Linked DNA regions of Homo sapiens. The protein of the gene in region 3 purifies or fractionates together with the protein of the main gene of each other region. This does not show direct contact. Each region holds a gene or a part of one and is shown on either strand. Other genes may lie near its edges.

The links. Proteins that work in one complex are often made in the same cells at the same time.
Region 1: the proteins of PCDHB5 (region 3) and GAS6 purify together in Homo sapiens (affinity purification with mass spectrometry; 2 studies listed by BioGRID and IntAct, with this or other methods). This does not show direct contact.
Region 2: the proteins of PCDHB5 (region 3) and PTP4A2 purify together in Homo sapiens (affinity purification with mass spectrometry; 2 studies listed by BioGRID and IntAct, with this or other methods). This does not show direct contact.

The regions. Positions count from the first base shown.
Region 1 is NC_000013.11:113,833,077-113,840,109, reverse strand, and holds part of GAS6 (growth arrest-specific protein 6 precursor), read left to right. Parts: intron 1-259; coding exon 260-382; intron 383-1,862; exon of another isoform or gene 1,863-1,918; coding exon 1,919-2,041; intron 2,042-4,474; coding exon 4,475-4,597; intron 4,598-5,345; exon of another isoform or gene 5,346-5,426; intron 5,427-5,437; coding exon 5,438-5,559; intron 5,560-6,530; exon of another isoform or gene 6,531-6,618; intron 6,619-7,033. UniProt on the Homo sapiens protein: Ligand for tyrosine-protein kinase receptors AXL, TYRO3 and MER whose signaling is implicated in cell growth and survival, cell adhesion and cell migration.
Region 2 is NC_000001.11:31,914,369-31,921,401, reverse strand, and holds part of PTP4A2 (protein tyrosine phosphatase type IVA 2), read left to right. Parts: intron 1-1,743; 5' UTR 1,744-1,773; coding exon of another isoform or gene 1,774-1,839; 5' UTR 1,840-2,336; coding exon 2,337-2,432; intron 2,433-5,414; coding exon 5,415-5,507; intron 5,508-7,033. Other genes in the region: uncharacterized LOC128031832, read left to right, coding at 1,774-1,839.
Region 3 is NC_000005.10:141,130,532-141,138,227, reverse strand, and holds the start of PCDHB5 (protocadherin beta-5 precursor), read right to left. Parts: upstream 3,023-7,696; 5' UTR 2,794-3,022; coding exon 406-2,793; 3' UTR 1-405. UniProt on the Homo sapiens protein: Potential calcium-dependent cell-adhesion protein. May be involved in the establishment and maintenance of specific neuronal connections in the brain.

The sequences.
Region 1 (7,033 bases), on a different chromosome or scaffold from region 3:
CACCTTGCGTCCAGGCCTGCTGGCACTCCCTCCCAGTTGATCTGAGTTTTCCTGGAGCCGGCCCCAGGGCCCGCCAGCCTATTCTGTCAGCCCTAGGCCAGCACAGAGGGCTCGGGTGCCCAGGGGCTGCCTCAGCCTGCGCCCCTCAGAGCTCCTCCGGGCTGGACCCGAGACCCCACAGCCGCCCCGATCTCAGCTGCGTTGGGCGCGCAGGGGTGGGGCAGCTGAACATGATTTTCCACTTTGTGTCCCCAATCAGACCTGCCTGACCAGTGCACGCCCAACCCCTGCGATAGGAAGGGGACCCAAGCCTGCCAGGACCTCATGGGCAACTTCTTCTGCCTGTGTAAAGCTGGCTGGGGGGGCCGGCTCTGCGACAAAGGTACGTGAGGCTGAAGACAAAGGCGGGGTCTCCCTCCATCTCCGACCCTGCCCTGATCCCCGCTCCTCACTCCCACTCCGGGGCACGGCCATCCTCAGGCTGCTCTCCGACAGCCCCAAGGAGGCTGCAGCCCTGAGGTATCCTGGAGCCCCAGGAGAATTGGGAGGAGCTGCAGTCTCCTTTCTGGGAGCAGGGCTGGAAGGAAAGGAAACACCAAGTGATGCCTCAGCACCCACTGATTGAAGGGCGGGGGGGGAAATTTCACCTCTGACCGTCCTTGAGTGCAGACCTGTGGTGTCAGTGGCACCCACTGATTGAAAGGCGGGGGGGAAATTTCACCTCTGACCGTCCTTGAGTGCAGACCTGTGGTGTCAGTGGCACCCACTGATTGAAAGGCCGGGGGGAGATTTCACCTCTGACCGTCCTTCAGTGTAGACCTGTGGTGTCAGTGAAGACCCTGGAGGAAGAATAGCTCCAGGGCCTGGTGGAGACCCATAGTGGAGAGCCCAGCAGGCCAGCCTGTCCCCTTTGGCAAATCCTACCCCACAGGTGGCCTGGGAGGGCTTTGCTAAGGAGTGGCCAGCTCTGGCCTGGCCTTGTCTGTCCTCGGCACCCAGAGGTCACTCCTGGCCTGCAGCCTCCTCCTGCAAGCACATGGGCATCCAGGGAGCTGAGCCCTGTGGGCTGTGACTGCCAGCAGCTCCCCAGGCTGAGACCGCAGCTGGGGATCCCCCATGCCCTCCCACCATCTACCTCCACACGCAAGGCCAGGACCAGGGGCCATGAAACGCTAGGGCTGCTGAGTGGGGTGTGAGGTCCAAGCCCTGGGGTCCCTCTCTGCTCCAGGGCTGGGCTGTGCACCTCTAGGATCTCTCTCTGCTCGGGGGCTGGGCTGTGCACTCCCAGGCTCTCTCCCTGCTCCAGGGCTGGGCTGTGCACACCCGCGGTCCCTTCCTCCTGCTCCAGTGCTGGGCTGTGCACCCCCCCGGCTCCTTCCCTGCTCCAGTGCTGGGCTGTGCACCCCCGGGCTCCCTCCCTGCTCCAGGGCTGGGCTGTGCACCCCCGGGGTCCCTTCCTCCTGCTGCGGGGCTGGGCTGTGCACCCCCGGGCTCCCTCCCTGCTCCAGGGCTGGGCTGTGCACCCCCGGGGTCCCTTCCTCCTGCTCCGGGGCTGGGCTGTGCACCCCCGGGCTCCCTCCCTGCTCCAGGGCTGGGCTGTGCACCCCCGGGGTCCCCTCCTCCTGCTCCGGGGCTGGGCTGTGCACCCCTGGGCTCCCTCCCTGCTCCAGGGCTGGGCTGTGCACCCCCGGGGTCCCTTCCTCCTGCTCCGGGGCTAGGCTGTGACCCCTGGTCTCCCTCCCTGCTCCAGGGCTGGGCTGTGCACCTTTGGGATCTCTCTCTGCTCCAGGGCTGGGCTGTGCACCTCTGGGCTCCCTCCCTGCTCCAGGGCTGGGCTGTGCACCTCTGGGATCTCTTCCTACCGTAGCCAGGGGCTGTGCACCCTTGGGCTCCCCTTCAGGCCTGTGCTTGTTCCCAGATGTCAACGAATGCAGCCAGGAGAACGGGGGCTGCCTCCAGATCTGCCACAACAAGCCGGGTAGCTTCCACTGTTCCTGCCACAGCGGCTTCGAGCTCTCCTCTGATGGCAGGACCTGCCAAGGTAAGGCCCTGGGGTGAGGCCTCTCTCCTCTCTCCTCTCCCCACCTTCTATTTTCGGTCATGTCTGCTCTTCTGCAAGCGGCTGCTGCTGGCTGGGTTCCTGTGGTTCTGGATGGGATGGGGCATCCTGCAGAGACTACACAAGCCCAGGCCAGCCGCAGCACAGGGAGCTGCTCGGCACCACACCAGGATGACTCACCCGGCATCTGAGGGCCAGGACTCAGGGGGCCGGCCCAGCCCATGAGGCCACACTGCTGGCTGTAGGGCCTCGTCCATTCCCCAGAGCCTCACAGAGCCTGGAAGTGCTCCAGGCACTTGTGTAGTGAGCTTGTGGGTCAGGGCTCCAGGCTAGGGTCCCCCCGCCGTCCACTCTCCCCAGCATCCCCAGAAGCACCCCGTTGTTGGTCTCCCTCTGTCCACTAAATATAGCCCTGCCCTCCCCACTTCCTTTCATATTTCAGTCTGGGGTTCCCTCAGCCCAGGGCCAGAGCTGGGGAGCCCCAGGACACCCCAGAAAGTCACTGTGAATGTGCGCGCCCCCGACGCTGTTCCAGGTGCTGCTGCTGCCACTGGCCCTTTGCCACTTTGCAGGGGGAGCACCTTCCTCCTCCCTCCCCACGTTGTATCTGGACATGCCCAGGCGTGTCCCTGAGAGTTTCTGGCATAGTTCTTAGCGCTGCTGCTGACTGTCCAGGACACCGAACTGCGTGGACAGGACAGACAGTTGCTCAGGGAGAAACAGCCCCAGGATCTGGAGAGTGAATCTGACCAGACAGGAGGGGCCACACCCCATCCCCCGATTTCAAAAGGCAGCTGCTATTTCTGTCCACTTTGGTGGTTCCCTTCCCTGACCACCCAGGAGTTAGCCCTGTGTGCAGATGACGTGATTCCCATCTTAACACATAAACCCATTTCCCCGCCGAGGACAGAGCCCCTCCCATCACTGCTCTATCCCTGACCTGGAAGACAGCAGCACCCCAGGTTTAAAGAGAGGTGAAGACTAGGCCGATCCTGAGAGATGACGTCTAAAGCATCTCCCGTGGGTCCCTGCACCAGTCGGGCACTCCCGGCAAAGTCTAGGCTCACAGTTACTGCCCACAGTGACAGAGGCATTCCCGTCCTCTCCTCCTCCTCCCCATCTTCCTCTTCCTCCCCACCATTCCCCCTCCTCCTTTCCCCACTCCCCCTCCTCCTCTCCCCACTCCCCCTCCTCCTCCCCCCCACTCCCCCTCCTCCTCCCCATCTTCCTCCTCCTCCTCATCTTCCTCCTCCTCTTTCTTCTCCTCCTCCCCCCACTCCCCCTCTTCCTCCCCATCTTCTTCCTCCCCCTCCTCCTCCTCATTCCCCTCTTCTTCCTCCTCATTCCCCTCTTCTTCCTCCTCATTCCCCCTCCTCTTTTTCCCCCTCCTCCTCCCCCATCCTTATTTCCCCTCTCCTCCTCCTCCCCCACCCCTCCCCACCCCCTCCCTCACCCCTCCCCACCCCCTCCCTCACCCCTCCCCACCCCCTCCCTCACCTCCTCCCCCACCCCTCCCTCACCTTCTCCTCTTCCTCCCTGCTTCTCCTCCTCCTCCCCCTCCGTCGTCCTCCCCCTCCGTCCTCCTCCCCCTCCGTCCTCCTCCTTCCCTTCCCCATTCTCCTCCCCCTCCCCCTCCTCCTCCCCCTCCTCCTCCTCCCCCTCCTCCCCCTCCTCTCCATCCTCTCCCTACCCCCTCCTCCTCCCCTCCTCCCCTCCCCCTCCTCTTCTCCCCCTCCCCTTCTCCCCCTCCCCCTTCTCCCCCTCCCCCTTCTCCCCCTCCTCCTCCTCCTCTTCCTCCTTCCCCTCCCCCCTTCCTCCTCCCACTCCTACTCCCCCTTCTCCTCCCCCACCTTTCTCCGTGCCCCTGCCTTTGCTCTCCTCTGGTGACTAAAGGGCTCTTCATTTCAGGGTTGCCCCTCCTACCCCAGGGTGCTTGGCCGTAAACAGCATCTGTCCCACATTAGATGCTCAAGTCTTAGGATTGTGGTTTAACCCGGTAGTGAAAATTGATTGAAACCAGTAAATGCTTCTCTTTGGGGTTGGGGTTTTAGTTTCAAATGCCCCCGGGGGGTTACTTTTTACGGCCCCGTGTCCTGTAGCACCGTCATTTAAATGGAACAGCACAGCGTGCACCGCCGCCCCCCACCCCTCCACCAAGCAGGGCCCTTCCCAGCTCTCCACCTGCTGGGCTGAAGTCAGCCTTCCCAGCCGGGCCTTGATCAGAAGCGTGCACCAACACCCCGGGAGCTGCCCGGTCAGGGGAGGAGGGCAGGGAAATGGGGCCAGGGCGCGCTGGCCCCACAGAGTCTGGATGCGACCTCTGGGTGGTGCCCTGGCCAGTCCCTGCAGCCGCCTGCCCCAGCCCCGTCTGAGATGCCGCTGTGCTGCGGTTGGCCGGTTTTTTTTTGCTTGCAGACATAGACGAGTGCGCAGACTCGGAGGCCTGCGGGGAGGCGCGCTGCAAGAACCTGCCCGGCTCCTACTCCTGCCTCTGTGACGAGGGCTTTGCGTACAGCTCCCAGGAGAAGGCTTGCCGAGGTACCCACGCCACGCGGTCACCCTCGCTTTCTCTGACGCCCAAGTCTAGACACGGGTGCCAGTCACTGCCCGAGCCGGTTGCTAACAACCGGGTGCTTCTGGTGAAAGAAAGTCTCTTTCTCCCTGTTTCTATCAGCCTGGTAATGGCCTGTGCTACCACCATGCCCGCACACACGTGAGCACACACAGGCACCCATGCCCCTTGTGCACATGAACGAACCGCACACATGCATATACACCGCATGTACACACGTGTGTACCCTTCTCCACCTGCATAGACGGGGCCTCTCCCCAAAGGGACGGGGAGCAGCAAGCCTCCCTCTACTGTTCTCTCTTTCCAGCCGCCATGGGGAGGGCCCTGTTGGCCGTAGAGCCTCTAAGAGGGGCCGTGCCCCCAGTGATGGGAACAGTGGGGCTGAGTAGGCAGACAGAGAGGGTGGGGAAGCCCAGGCTGCCTGCACTGACCTCCATTTCCCACCACAGCTGTCGGCCCCTCTGTGCTCCGGGGGACACCTCACTGCACAGCCCAGACCCTGTGCTTCCCAGACCTGCCTTCCACACCGGCCCGGCAGCGGGGGTGGGTCTGGCTCGTTGGGAGCACCCTCCTGGGACACCTGCGACATTTTTATTCCCTCAAGAAAGAGCCCGGGCAGGAGCAGGCCGAGGGTGCAACCTAGCTTTCCAGTGGGGGGGGACGCGACCCCCAAGCCGCCCCCGTTAGAATCTGCATGTAATTCCTTGAGCGCACCTTGCGTGTGGTTTGAGCAATCGCGGTGTGATCCCACGGCGGGACAGCGTAGAGGCCTCCCCGGCTCACCGCCGCTTCCCTCTGGCTGGCAGATGTGGACGAGTGTCTGCAGGGCCGCTGTGAGCAGGTCTGCGTGAACTCCCCAGGGAGCTACACCTGCCACTGTGACGGGCGTGGGGGCCTCAAGCTGTCCCAGGACATGGACACCTGTGAGGTAGGCGGCCCCTGGCCCCGCGGGCCCTTCACGGTGGTTCCGGGGGCCCTCGCCGGTGGGGGCTTTCGGGAGAAACACTTCCGTGAAGACCTGGCCTTTGCTAAGGTGTTGGGGATCTCCAGGGCCATGTGGAGGTTTGGGATGAGAAACGCTTCTGTTCCCTGGAAGATGTTTGGTTGTATTTATAGAGTCTCTATGGCAACTCCCAGCTCACAGTGGATCAGCCTGGTGTGGACCCCAGTGTGACACTCACGGGGGCACGGTCCCCACTCTGCCGCGTGCCAGGGAGCCAACGTGACCGACCTGTCACACCGGTGCCTGTCACACCGACCTGTCACACCGGGGCCTGTCACACCGGTGCCTGTCACAGCATGACCTACCTGTCACACCGGGGCCTGTCACACTGGTGCCTGTCACACCGACCTGTCACACCGGGGCCTATCACAGCATGACCTACCTGTCACACTGGTGCCTGTCACACCGACCTGTCACACCGGGGCCTATCACAGCATGACCTACCTGTCACACCGGGGCCTGTCACACTGGTGTCTGTCACACCGACCTGTCACACCGGGGCCTGTCACAGCATGACCTACCTGTCACACCGGGGCCTGTCACACTGGTGCCTGTCACACCGACCTGTCACACCACTGCCTGTCACACTGACTTGTCACACCAGTGTCTCACACCGACCTGTCACAACAGTACCTGTCACACTGACCTGTCACACCGGTGCCTGTCACACCACTGCCTGTCACACTGACTTGTCACACCAGTGTCTCACACCGACCTGTCACAACAGTACCTGTCACACCGACCTGTCACACCGGTGCCTGTCACACCACTGCCTGTCACACTGACTTGTCACCGGTGTCTGTCACACCGACCTGTCACACTGGTGCCTGTCACACTGGTGCCTGTCACACCGACCTGTCACACCGGTGCCTGTCACACCGACCTGTCACACTGACCTGTCACACCGGTAGGAATGCAGTACCCACATGTGGACGTTTCTGGGCAGGGCGGCTCTTGTCTTTCCTCTTCAGCCTGGGCCTGTGCCTGGGGGTTGATGAGAGTGAGCATTTATTTAAAAAGCAAAACCACAGGTGGAAAGAGTCACCAGGACAGCTTCTCGGAGTCGCAGACCTGGGATGCAGCCGTGGGGCTCTTGGGTCTGGGCTGCGACGTTCAGGGCTTCCAGCCAGCCCTCGCCTTGAGGTTCTTTGCCTCGCTGCCTCATGTACTCATGCAGAGGGTGTCGGACCCCTGCGAGATGTCCAGCTCACCCTGGCTGCCCACGGTGGGCAGGGCAGGCCTGGCTCAGCCCCAGCCCCTCCATCTTCCAGGGGTGTCAGCTCACACCGGCTTTGGTTCTGTCCCCCTTCGGGCAGCGTGGAGAAACCACAGCCCAGAACAGGGAACTTTCCAGGACAGCCATCTTCAAGGCATCCATATCTATTTCATAATAGTGTAT
Region 2 (7,033 bases), on a different chromosome or scaffold from region 3:
AAAGGTAAACTGAAATAGAAAGGAGAGGATGAGGTTTATACATTAGTTGAGTCAGGAGGCATTTGTGGTACATTGGAAAAAACGGGACTAACAGAAGACTTGGGTTTGAATTTGGGCTCAGTTAAAAACTTCCATTGTGTGATGTTAGGCAAGTCACTTCATTTTTCTGATCTTCTTTCCTCATTCCTTATATGTTGTAACAACTACTCAAGACTTGTGAGGAAAAGGGGAAATGATTTTTAAAAAATCAATTCTTTATTTACGTAACAAGTTGGTTATGTCCACTGCATTGTGTGAAACATTACAGTATCATATAGGAAAGTACTGTCAGTACAGTGTTGGATCACAGGATTTTTTGAGAGTGCCTTATGAGTTAGTCTCATCATTGAGGGCCAACACATATACTTTGGATAGAAAGAATAAAATCCTCAAAGTGAAATTTTGATTAATATCCTCTACCCATTTATAGGTACACCTTATTTTAACCAAAGAGTATATGTGAAGGACCTAACCATCAAAGCAGAAAAATAAGGAGATCTTTGTGAAGTTTATGAAGAGTTCATGGGCCAGGCGCAGTAGTTCACGCCTGTAATCCCAGCACTTTGGGAGGCCTAGGCAAGCGAATCACCTGAGGTCAGGAGTTCGAGATGAGCCTGGTCAACGTGGTGAAGCCCCGTCTCTACCAAAAATACAAAAATTAGCCAGGTGTGGTGGTGGGCACCTGTAATCCCAGCTACTTGGGAGGCTGAGGCAGGAAAATAGCTTGAACCTGGGGGGCGGAGGTTGCAGTGAGCTGAGATCTCGCCATTGCACTTCAGCCTGGGTGACAGAGCAAGGCTCCGTCTCAAAAAAAAAAAAAAAAAAAGTTCATGGAAGTTTTAAGTATCTAGTAATCATTTAAAAATTATTTGAGTTAAAAGTAATCGAGTCTCTGATTTTTTTTGTTTTTTTGTTTTTTGAGACAGAGTTTTGTTCTCATTGTCCAGACTGGAGTGCAGTGGCACAATCTCAGCTCACTGCAACCTCCACCTCCCAGGTTCAAGCAATTCTCCTGCCTCAGCCTCCCAAGTAGCTGGGATTACAGGCATGCGCCACCATGCCTGGCTAATTTTGTATTTTTAGTAGAGACGGGGTTTCTCCATGTTGGCCAGGCTGGTCTTGAACTCCCGACCTCAGGTGATCTGCCCGCCTCAGCCTCCCAAAGTGCTAGGATTACAGGCATCAGCCACCACACCTGGCTCAAGTCTCTGATTTTTTTTTTTTTTTTTTTTTTTTGAGGCAGAGTTTTGCTCTTGTTGCCCAGGCTGGAGTGCAATGGTGCCATCTTGGCTCATCACAACCTCTACCTCCCGGGTTCAAGCGATTCTCCTGCCTCAGCTTCCTGAGTAGCTGGGATTACAGGCATGCACCACCACACCTGGCTAATTGTGTATTTTTAGTAGCGACGGGGTTTCTCCATGTTGATCAGGCTGGTCTCAAACTCCCGACCTCAGGTGATCTGCCTGCCTCAGCCTCCCAAAGTGCTAGGATTACAGGCATCAGCCACCACACCCGGCTCGAGTCTCTGATTTTTAAAACTCTTCATAATACCCCTTTATCCAATTCTTCATAGATGGTAATAACGTATAATTGGTGACATTTCACATCGCTTTGGGCTTATAAAGAATGTATTTTGACTTCAGGCATTTGTGTTTACTGTGCCATCAGCCTCTAGTTCATTTTACTTATTCTTTTCTTCTCCAGGTTTTTCGTTGGAATATACGTTGCACATTTATGGCGATTCTGAGTGTGAGGGCAGACTTCTGCCAGGCTCAGCACAGCATTTTCGCTGACAAGTGAGCTTGGAGGTTCTATGTGCCATAATTAACATTGCCTTGAAGACTCCTGGACACCGAGACTGGCCTCAGAAATAGTTGGCTTTTTTTTTTTTTAATTGCAAGCATATTTCTTTTAATGACTCCAGTAAAATTAAGCATCAAGTAAACAAGTGGAAAGTGACCTACACTTTTAACTTGTCTCACTAGTGCCTAAATGTAGTAAAGGCTGCTTAAGTTTTGTATGTAGTTGGATTTTTTGGAGTCCGAAGGTATCCATCTGCAGAAATTGAGGCCCAAATTGAATTTGGATTCAAGTGGATTCTAAATACTTTGCTTATCTTGAAGAGAGAAGCTTCATAAGGAATAAACAAGTTGAATAGAGAAAACACTGATTGATAATAGGCATTTTAGTGGTCTTTTTAATGTTTTCTGCTGTGAAACATTTCAAGATTTATTGATTTTTTTTTTTCACTTTCCCCATCACACTCACACGCACGCTCACACTTTTTATTTGCCATAATGAACCGTCCAGCCCCTGTGGAGATCTCCTATGAGAACATGCGTTTTCTGATAACTCACAACCCTACCAATGCTACTCTCAACAAGTTCACAGAGGTAAGATTGTGGCATGGTCTACTTTTTGGATTGATTTCTAGGTAAAATCCCATTAAAAAATTCTCTTAGCACAAAGCCATTTATTCTGTATTTGGAGTCATCCTGCCAATCCTGGTTTGAATTGGGTTGGGTTAGTTACAGCAGATTTTTTCAAGAACATTTTGTGAAATTTGGGGACTGTAGAGATATCTAGTACTGTTTTCTCTGTGTTCTTTCTACATTTATTGACAGGTTTTTTTGGTCAAACATTCAGTAATGATAATTAACATTTATTGACCACGATATGCACTTAGCATTATAACAAACAATGTTACACATTATGCAACGAGCAGTGTTTGTGCTTAAGGTCACAAATACAAAAACCCTATGAGGTGTAGCTACCATTATTTCCCTCTTACCAATGAGGAAACAGGTTCAGAGCCATTTAGTAATTTGCCTAATGGCACATAGTATGTGGTGGAACTAATGTACTTGCCTAGGTGTCTGACACTAAAAACCATTCTGTATGTACTTCAGATATTCTAACCACCTTTGATGAAAAGGCACCCCCAGACTACTTCGTTGTAATAATCGTATACAAGGGTCCAGAAACTTGGGTGAAGGAAAGGTGGTAGAGGTAGTATTTTTATGTCAGATCCTTAATATTTTTTCTATTGGTAGGAGAAAAAACTCTTTGTACTTCTTTGAGCAAGCATTTGAACATAAGTTTTTTTTTTTTTTTGGGAGATGGAGTCTCGCTCTTCGCCAGGCTGGAGTGCAGTGGCACTATCTCGGCTCACTGCAAGTTCCCCCTCCCGGGTTCACGCCATTCTCCTGCCTCAGCCTCCCTGATAGCTGGGACTACAGGCACCTGCCACCACTCCCGGCTAATTTTTTGTATTTCTAGTAGAGACGGGATTTCACCATGTTAGCCAGGATGGTCTTGATCTCCTGACCTTGTGATCTGTCACCTCGGCCTCCCAAAGTGCTGGGATTACAGGCATGAGCCACCGTGCCCAGCCCTTTTTTTTTTTTTTTTTTTTGAGACGGAGTGCAGTGGCACGATCTTGGCTCACTGCAACCTGCACCTCCCAGGTTTAAGCGATTCTCCTGCCTCAGCTCCCAAGTAGCTGGGACTACAGGCGCGCGCCACCACACCCAGCTAATTTTTGTATTTTTAGTAGAGACGAAGTTTCACCGTGTTGGCCAGGATGGTCTTGATCTCTTGACCTCGTGATCCGCCTTCCTCGGCCTCCCAAAATGCTGGGATTACAGGCGTGAGCCACTGTGCCTGACCAGAACATAAGCTTTTTAATCATTCTTGGGTTGTTGAGTTTAAATGATTTTTCTTGCTGTATTTATGGAGTAGAGTTAGAAAGGTGGGTGAACTCTTAGTGATTTTCATTTTATAGATGGGAAAACTGAGACCAAAAGAGGATTTGACTTGCTTAAGGTCACAAATACCATAAAAAATTTTATCGCAACTTTTCAATGAATGGCTATTACAGAGTTTATTTTAATGGGATTTTATTTGTATTTTGAAACATTTTTAAAATTCCTGACAATACTTCTACCTTTCTTGAGTCTGTATTATAAGAAGGCCTTTTTGTGAAAAATGAAGTCCTTTAGCAATTAAAATAATTTTACACTTTAGATAACTAAATGATGGACCCTTCTTATAGGATATCACTGTGCCTGCTTATTTATACTTATAATTCCCTGAGCTTCTTAACTTTGTATACACAGCGTACAAGTTGATTCTACGCCTGTATGCCCTCAGATTGTTCAGTCACCTTTAAGCCTGGCTGAATTATGTGGTACTATTTTCAACCTGTGGATTCCTTGGCCATAGTCTCCAGAAGTGGCACAGGCCACTGTCCTCCTGCAACTATAAAAAAGATATTGGTAGCCCCTTGAAGATAGGTAGTCACTGGGTTAGGGATTCACCGTAGGGAGAGTTTTAAAGGAGCAAGGCTTCTGGCTATAACTGCATTAGCTGTCTTTTTAATATACCACTTTTTTTCTTAATTTCAGAATTTTATTTCTTTAAAAAAAGCATGTTTATTTCATAAAAATATAAAGATACAGATAAGCAAAAAGAATTTAACAACATTTAATTGTTAATAACTGGCTTCTAGATGTTTTTCTCTGCATATATCTGTGTGTATTCATAAATACACATACAGATAGGATCACACTATATATTTTTTAAAATCTTTCCCCATCTTCCTTGGTATTGTTTTTATAGCTGTCATAGTGTTCACTATATGGATGTGCCATACTTCTTTAATCATTCCCTTATTTTTGGACCATTAATGTGGTTTCTAATTTTTCACCATTCCAGTTTGTGGTGAATGTGCTGTTACCTAAATATTTGTATATGTCTTTAATTATTTCTTTTGTATAAACTCCCAGAAGTAGAATTTTTAGGTTGCAGTGTATGTGAACTTTTGTGTAAGTTTTCACGTTATGCTACCAAACTGCCCTTTAGAAAGGTGAGTCTCACACTGCCACTGAGATTTCATGAGTGTCCATTGAATATATAACCACAGTGAGAACAATTCTGATCTTTGTCTAAAAATGATATCTCATTGTTTTAATTTATAATAGTAGATTTCTTTTTTTTTTTTTTTTTTTTTTTTTTTGGAGACGGAGTCTCGCTCTGTCGCCCAGGCTGGAGTGCAGTGGCACGATCTCGGCTCACTGCAATATCTGCCTCCTGGGTTCAAGCGATTCTCCTGCCTCAGCCTCCTGAGTAGCTGGGATTACAGGCCCGCACCACCACACTCAGCTGATCTTTGTATTTTTAATAGAGACGGGGTTTCACTATGTTGGTCAGGCTGGTCTCGAACTCCTTACCTTGTGATATGCCCGCCTCAGGCCTCCCAAAGTGCTGGGATTATAGGCGTGAACCACCCCGCCCGGCCTATAATAGTACATTTCTACATTTTTGGCTGTAGGTTTCAAAAACAAGTTCCATTATAATTTTTTTTTTTTTTAAAGGAACTTAAGAAGTATGGAGTGACGACTTTGGTTCGAGTTTGTGATGCTACATATGATAAAGCTCCAGTTGAAAAAGAAGGAATCCACGTTCTAGTGAGTGTGTAGTATTTAAATTTTTCAAAACAAGTTGTATCTTTCAAACATAAATATTTATAAAACTAGGCCAGGTGCACTGGCTCACACCTATAATCCCAATATTGTGGGAAGATCACTTGAACCCAGGAGTTCAAGACCAGCCTGGGCAATGTGGCGAGATCTCATCTGTACAGATAATTAAAAAACTGGTGGGGCATGTTGGTGCACACCTGTGGTCCCAGCTACTTGGGTTTTTGAGGTGAGGGAATCACTTGAGCCCAGGTGGTTGAGACTGCAGTGAGCTGTGGCCACACCACCACATTCCAGCCTGGGTGACAGAGGGAAACCCCGTCTCAAAAAAAAAAAAAAAAAAAAAATTAAAAACTTGGTATTAGGTGGGCACGGTGGCACACATTTGTAGTCCCAGCTACTTGGGAGGCTGAAGTGAGAGGATCGCCTGAGCCTGGGAGGTCAAGGTTGCAGTGAGCCTTGATTATGCCACTGCACTCCAGCCTGGATGAGAGTAAGACCTTGTCTCAAAAACAAAAACAAAAAAACCCTGGCAGTAATACTTTTGGATTTTTTTAAGGTTGTAGTGGAAAATACATTATTGATAGCAATCTTTCAAATTCTTTTGGATTAACAAATTGGCAGTTTTGTTCATTTGTGCTCTTAAAGCCTACAAATCATAGTATTTTCAACTAATAAAAAGCAAAATTTAGTGTGCTCTTATTTTAACAACATGTAAATTTGCAAGTTTTATTTTTTAGGAAATTAATACAATATTTAGCTTTTGTTTCTAGGCTACTAATTTGAATATAATGAAAGTAATTTCCATCAGACATTCTTAAGTCCATATGGAACTCTGCCACTTTGCAAGTACAAGATTAGTTACTTAATATTTTGTGGATAACTTGTAGGAGGCAAAAAGGTGGGATAAGAGGATGAGGAGAGGTAGAAGGCATCCTCCTCCAGAGTAATCAGCATAGTTTCTGATACTTTTTGTTAGGTTTCTGAGGAGCTTTAGTATGATTAGATTTTTTGTCTAGCTCAATTTGAGCACAAAGTGATTGGAATTATTTTAAATTAAGTTCCTTTTTAGCATCAAAATAGGCTGTTTCCTTATAGCAAATGGGAGCATCAGATTAGTTAACATTTTATTCTTTCTTCCCTAAGTAGTTGTCTAAGTTGTAGGAGCAGCTTTTAGGAGCACGTAATGAAATGATCTTGTAATTTTAGATGTCTTTGAGCTGTTGGTTTGATTGTGGGAAGGTTATGTAGTAGGAAGAGAACTGGAGATTTTATAAGTAGTTAGGAAGAACGTAACAAGGAAGATACTGGTTTAAGGTTATGTTCCTGCTTCTTATTGAGAGGTAGTTCTGTAGTCTTTATTATATTGGTCAGTGGTTGGGAAGGCAGTTGATGCAAAAAGAATAATGACCTATTGGTAAGGCAGTCCTCTTATATCTGATCCATAGTTTCCTCATGTCCATTTTGGTGAAAATAAAAACTAAATAGCCAAATGTGTTTTAAAAAAATGTGTT
Region 3 (7,696 bases):
AATTAAAATATGATGATGTGAAACATTTTTAATTTTTGCATTTTAGCATCAAATATATAATACTTAAGAGTGTGATGAAATAGAATGGGCAGAATATATAGAAAATAAAATTAATACTTGATTTTATTAAGGTGGTTTATCACAACAAATACCAACAAGAAGAGAAAAAAATCTCAGGAAAATCAACAGCATGCATGGATTTGGAATGACACTATGTAAATAAATGCAATGAAATAAAATTGACTTTTCAACACTTGGACAGCATGAAGTTCAACAGACAAATCCATTAAAAAGGGAAATAAAAGCTCAATCTCAAGGTGAAATTTTTGTCCATGACACTCTCGAATTCTAGATCTGAAAAAGTTTGGGATAAATGGCAGAAAACAACGCGTCATCACGAGATCTCTAATTTAATCCAAAGCTATTCCGGAAGGCAGCAGTTTTCCCTATTTCTTCACCAGCGCCCTGGGGCAAAAGGTTAGGAATAATCGGCTTCAGGAACTTGAACTCGCCGGCCCCTGAGTCTCCGGTCAAACACACCTCGTAGTGGTAGCTCTGGGATAGGGTCCCGGTGCCGCTCACGTCCACCAGATGCCCTGGAAAGGGGCCCTCGGGCACCGAGCAGCGACCGACCGGGGCCGCCCTGCTCCTCCTGCACAGCCGCACTGCCACGAACAGGAGCACCGAAAAGAGGAAGAGCGACGACACCGAGGCCAATGCCACCACCAGGTAGACAGTGAGCGAGTCGGCCTGGGCCTGGGCCGGGGCCGCCTCCGGCAGCGGCAGGTAGGGCTGGGAGAAGCCGTCCACCAGGAGCACGTGCAGCGTGGCGGTGGCCGAGCGCGGAGGCTCGCCATTGTCCTTGACCAGCACCACCAGCCTGTGCTTGGCCGCGTCGCGCTCGCTCAGCAGCCTGGCGGTGCGCACCTCGCCATTGTGCGCCCACATGCTGAACAGCCCGGGCTCCGTGGCCTTGAGCAGCTGGTACGACAGCCAGGCGTTCTGGCCCGAGTCACCGTCCACCGCCACCACCTTGGTCACCAGGTAGCCCGGCTCGGCCGCCCGGGGCACCAGCTCGGTGCAAGGCGCCGAGCCGTTCTGCAGCGGATACAGCACGAAGGGCGAGTTGTCGTTGGCGTCCAGCACCAGCACGCGCACCAGCGCCTCGCTGCTCAGCGCCGGGGAGCCGCGGTCTGTGGCTCCCACGCGGAACTCGAACGCCTGCAGGGCCTCGTAGTCCAGCGACCTGAGGGCAAACAGGTGGCCGTTGTCCGCGTTGATGGAGACCAGGGAGGCGAGGCGCAGGTGTGGGTTCTGGGGCGGCAGCAGCGAGTAGGTGACCTGGGCGTTGGTGCCTGAGTCTCTGTCTGTGGCGCTGACACTGCCGATGTGCAGGGCGGGGCTGTTGTTCTCTCGGACGAACAGGGTGTAGGAGGTTTGGGTGAAGGCGGGGGCGTTGTCATTGACGTCGGAGACCAGGACCGTTATGTTGTGCTCGGTTTTCAGCCTGGGTGTCCCCATGTCGGTGACAGTGATGGTGATGTTGTACTCGGCTTGGCTCTCTCTGTCCAGTGTTCTCTGTGTCACTAGGGTGTAAAAGTTTTTTAATGTGGGCTTCAAAAGAAAGGGGAGATCATTCTGGATGGAGCAAATCATCCTACCGTTGTCCCCGGAGTCTGGATCAGAAACACTGAAAACGGCAACTACAGTTTCCGGGGCATTTTCTGGGGTAGGGCTGGAGAGCGTAGACATGGTGAGTTCAGGGGCGTTGTCATTCACATCCACCACTTCTATAGCCACAGTGCATTTTCCTGAAAGGCCCCCACCATCTGTGGCTACAATTTCCACGTTATAATATGGAGTTGCCTCGAAATCCAATGCCCTTTTCAGGCGAATTTCTGCTGTTTTCTCGTCTATTACAAATGGTTGAGTAACTTCATCGCCTTGGAATAGAGCATAGGCTACACTCCCATATGCTCCTGCATCTAAATCTCGAGCGGAGACAACGACAACTAAGGAGTTAAGGGGGCTGTTCTCGGGCACCTGTACCTCATAGAATGATTGTAAAAATTCGGGGGCGTTGTCATTATTATCCAAGACGACAATGCGAATTGTGGTGGTCCCGGACCTGGGCGGAGCCCCACCGTCCAGTGCAGTGAGTGTTAAGCTGAGCTCAGGCCGCTCCTCCCGGTCCAGCGCTTTGTCCAGCACCAGCTCTGGGTATTTTCTGCCATCTCCGCGATTATGCGTAGCAACATGAAAGTGTGAATTTGGGCTGATTGTGTAGTTCTGAACAGTGTTGCTACCTATGTCAAAGTCCTGGGCTATTTTTAAGGGAAACACAGTCCCTGGCTGGGTGCTCTCTGGGATTTTTAGGAGCATTTCCTTCTCTGGGAACTCTGGGGCATGGTCATTTATATCTGTGAGCTGCAGATCAGTTTGAAAAAACTGCACTGGATTTTCTAGTAAGAGCTGGAAATGCAATATACAGGGTTCTGTCGCCCCGCACATCACCTCCCGGTCTAGTTTTTCATATAGAAGCAAATTGCCGGTCTTTATATCAAGCTGCAAGAGCTCTTTGTTTCCTTTGTAATGCATTCGCGCGCCCCGAGTGGCCAGTTCCCCCACCCCAAGACCCAGGTCTTTTGCCAGGTTGGCCACAGAATAGCCACTTTCTGTTTCTTCTGGTATGGAATACCTAACTGCCTCAGAGCCAGCCTCCCACAAAAGCAACAATATAGCAAGAAACATAACTTGCCTTTTCTGTGGCGTTTTTGCTAGCGCAGTCTCCATTGTTCAGACCCGGTCCAGAAGGCGCAGTTTAACTCCGTACACAATCCACCCAGATGATTTGCATAAATAACCGCGAATCCGATCTTTCTTGACTGATTTCCACAAGAACGAAGCCCACCCTGAAGATCTAGCCACTAGATCTTACCTAAAATGCGTCCTTCTTTTAGAGTTTGGATTCCCCAGCTTAATGGCGTCTGAGTTATCCGCAGAGCCCACTATCCACACTCTTAGCCTGCAGCGCCACCAGGCGTCCTAATTTACTATTGCATATAGTATTTGCCATTTCATCCTAAATTCTAACTGACGTGTATCCATACCCTTTTGTCACATAAGCTCTCCCGATGGTATCTCCAGCTCTTAGTTGCTGAAAGTTCTAAATAAATGTTGTGGAGTTAATTTTCAGTGAGAAAATACTTTTGAGAAAAAAACTAAAATTATATATTAATCTCCATAAAAGTACCCTTGAGTACACAAATACACTTTGTTTGGTGTTTCTTATTTGATTATATTAAATAAGTGATCAGGAATATCTATAGAAATTTAAAGTTTAAGAAAAATTACTTTCACTTTGAAGTAAACACCAATAACACCCAGAAAATGGCACAAATCATAGGTGTATAACTCAATGAATTTTCGCAAAGTGAACACACTCCTGTAAGTAGAACCTAGATTAAAAATACTACCCAAACCCAAGTCCCCACCTGCTATTGTCTGGTTACCACCCTCTCCCCAAAAGATAAGCACTGTCCTGACTTCTGTTGTCATAGGTTTTTTTTGCTTTTTTTTTTTTTAACTTTATACAAATGGAGTTATAGATTGTTACTCTCGTGTGTCTGGCTTCTTCTCCTCAATATTATGTTCAGCAAATTGATCTGTGGCATCTTGTTCTTATTTGTTTTATTCTCATTGCTTTATATCATTCTGTTGTATGAATATACTATGATTTATTTATTCATTCTCCAGTTGATGAACATTGTTTTCCAGGTTTAAGCTCTTTGGGGTAGTACTGGTATAAACATCCTTGTACTAGTCTTTTGGTGACCACATATATGTGTTTATGTTGAATATATTCAAAGGAGTTGGATTGCTATGCATTAAGATGTGCACATATATTTTGCTTTAGCAGATAATGAGAAAGTTTTCTCAAGTAGTCGTACTAATACCAGCAAAGTATGAGAGTTCCAGTTGCTCCACATTCTTGTCAACATTTGATGCTATCTTTTCCATTTTAAACCACTCTGGTTAGTGTATGGTGATATGATATTGTAATTTTAGTTAGCATTTTCCCTGATGATTAAACAATTTGAGCACATTTTCATGTTTATCAGCCATTAGGATACAATCTTGTGAAGGGCTTATGCAAACCTTTTTACTTTTTTGGGGGGAGGCATTTGCCTGTTTGCTTATTGATCTGCAGAAGTTTCTCATATATTCTGGGCATAAGTCCTTTTTAAGATATATGTATTGCAAATATCTTTTCCCACTCTATGGTTTTTATTTCAAGTCTATTATGTGTCTTTGATGAATAAAATTTCTTACCTTTAGTCAGATTTGTCAATAAGTTTCATGTATGATTAGCATTTTTTTGTGTTCTATTTAAATGTTCACATACTCCAAGGTCATGAAAATATTCTTGTATGATGTATTTTGAAAGATTAATTATTCCATTTTTCATATTTAAAGCTATAATCAACCTGAAATTAACTTTTCAAGTGAATGAGTTTGGAGTCAAAAGGTTTAAAATGTAAGTATCTGAATGCTTTAAACCTTTGCACCATCTATTTAAAAGACAATCCATTTTCCATTGTTTTTGAAATGTCATCTTTGTTATAAATTAGGTAACCATAGCTCTGAAGATGTTTTATTCAATCTTGTTTATCCTACAATAACTCATTGTGTTAATTATTATAGCTTTATCATGAGTTTTGTTATCTGAGAAGTAAGTTCTCCAGTTTTTTAAAAGTAGACTAAATTTTTAGAATGGTTTTTGGTTCACAGCAAAAATGAGAGTAAAGTACAGAGATTTCATATATGCCCCTGTCCCCACACAAGCACAGCCTCACCCATTATCAACATCCTCCACCAGAGTGGTTCATTTGCTACAGCTGATGAATCTACATTGGCACGTCATTATAACCTGGAGTCCATAGTTTACATTAGGGCCCATTCTTGGTGCTGTATATTCTATGGCTTTGGACAAATTTAAAATTATGTGTATTCACCTTTATAATATCATACAAAGTAGTTTCACTGCTCTAAAAATCCCCTGTGCTCCACTTATTTATACCTCCCTCCCTCCCCTAGAACCCAATGCAAGTGGATTTTTTTACTGTCTCCACAGTTTTGCTTTTTCTAGAGCACCATGTAGTTGAAATCACACAGTATGTAGTCTTTTCAGATTGGCTTCTTTCACTTAGTAATATCCATTTAGATTTCCTCAATGTCTTTTCATGGGTTGTTAGGTCATTTCTTTTTGATGCTGAATAGTATTCTATGGGTTGAATGAACTGCAGTTTGTTTATCTATTCACCTACTAAACGACATCTTGGTTGCTTCCACGTTTTGGCAATTATGAATGAACTGCTATAAACGTCTCTGTGCAAGTTTTTGTGTGAACATAAATTTTCAACTCCTTTGGGCAAATACTAAGGAACATGAGTGCTAGATAACATGGTAAGAGTATATTTTGTTTTGTATCAAACTGCCAAACTGTCTTCCAAAGTGTCTGTACCATTTTGCATTCCCACCAGCAATGAATGAGAGCTCCTTTTGCTCTCATTACCAGCATTTGGCACTGTCAGTGTCCTGAAGTTTGGTCATTCTAATAGGTGTGTAGTCATATTTCACTGTTATTTTAATTTGCATTTCCCTGTTAACATATGATATGGAGCATCTTTTCATATGTTTATTTGCCACCTGTATACCTTCTTTGGTGGGTGTCTCTTAAGGTCTTTGCCTTATTTTTAAATTGGGTTCTTGTTGCTGAGTTTTAGTCGTTCTTTGTATATTTTGAATAACAGTCCTTTATCAGATATGCCTTTTGCAAATATTTTCTCCTAGTTTATGTCTTGTCTTTTCATTCTCTTCATAGTATCTTTTGCAGAGCAGAAAGTTTTAATTTTAATGAAGTCCAGCTTATTAACTCTTTATTCTGCGGATTGTGACTTTGGTGTGGTATCTCTAGTTTGGTTCCTTTTCATCAGGGTTCCTTTGGTTATTACTGTTTTTGTATTTTCAAATAAACTTAATGCTCGGCTCATTAATTTTCACAAAGAAAGCTGCTGGAATTTTGTTTAAGATTTTATTGAATCTATAGATTGACTAAGAGATAACTGACATATTCCCAACATTGAGTCTTCCAATTAGTGAACATTGTATATTCCTGTAATTATTTAGATCTTCTTTAATTTTTCTCATATTTTAGTTTTCAATGTAGAAGTCTTATACATATTCAACTAGATTTGTTTATAAATAGCTGCTATTTTTGAAATTATTGTGCATAATGTTTAAATTTTTCACTTTTTTTGTTGCTAAATAGAAATAGAACTCATGTTTGTATGTTGACCTTGTATCCAGTGGCATTGTTAACTTCATTTATTAATTCCAGTAGCCTGTAGATTCTTCATGGCTTGCAAGGTATACAAGTATGTCCACTTAAAAAGACATTTTTATTTCTTCCCTTCGAATCATAGTGCCTTTTATTCCTTCTTTGCTTTATTCCGCTGTTTAGGACCTGTGATAGAATACTAAATTGGAGAAGAAAAGACAGGTATCCTTGTTTCATTCTTGATCTCCAGGGGAAAATTTTTGAAAATTTATTGTTAATGATGTTTCCTGTAGGTTTTTAAAGTCACTCTGAAAGTTCCCTTTGATTTTAGTTTGCTAATAATTTTACCACTACTGTGTGTTGAATTTTATCACATGACTTTTTTCTGTATCCATTGAAATAATCATGTTTTGTTCTTTATCTTTTAATATGGTAAATTACAATGATCAATTTTCAAATATTAAACTGCCTCTGTATTCCTAAAATAAACTCCATTTTCCAATTATTATTTTTCTTTTATACATTTTAAAATTTTATTTGCTAATATTTTTAAAAATGAATTTTCCATACATATTTATAAAAAAGAATAGTAATTTTCTTTTCTTATAATATCCTATTCAGGTTTGAATGTTATAACCTATTCAGATTTATGCTGGCACCCAAATGATTTGGAAAATGTCTATTTTTCTACTCTCTGAAGGAGTTTGTACAAATTAGTGATAATTTTGACATAAGTATTTGGGAGAATTCACTGCTGTGAATTAGAGTGGGAAGGTTTTTAATGAACAACTTTAATTAATATAATAGATATGACTAATCAGATCTTAATTTCGTCCTGTTTCAGTTTCGGAAAATTGTGTTTTTAAAGGATGGTTTCTGTTTTACATAAATTGTCAAGTTTATTGGCATAAAATTGTTCATAATATTTCTTTTTTATTTTTTAAATGTCTGTAGGTTGGTAGTTGTGTTTTTTTTATCCTGATATTGGCAGTTGGTGTTTTCCCTCTTTTTTTCTTGATTAGTCTAAGAGTTTTAAATTTTAATCATTGTAGAAACCAACTTTTTGCTTCACTGATTTCCTCTGTTGTATATTTGTCATTTATTTTGTTTCTGCCTATGTGTGTGTGTATAAAATTGTCTTCCATCTTTATTTGCATTTGATTTGCTGTTCTTTTTCTAGCTTCTTGAGATGAAAGCTTAGATTATTGATTTTTAGCCTTTCTTTTCTAACATGTGCATTTAAGATTTTAAATTTCCCTCTAAGTACTGTTTTGATACGCCAGGTGTTAATTTTTCCCCGTTCAAAATATTTGGAAATTTCTGTTGTGATTTCTTTTTGACTCATGGATTATGCAA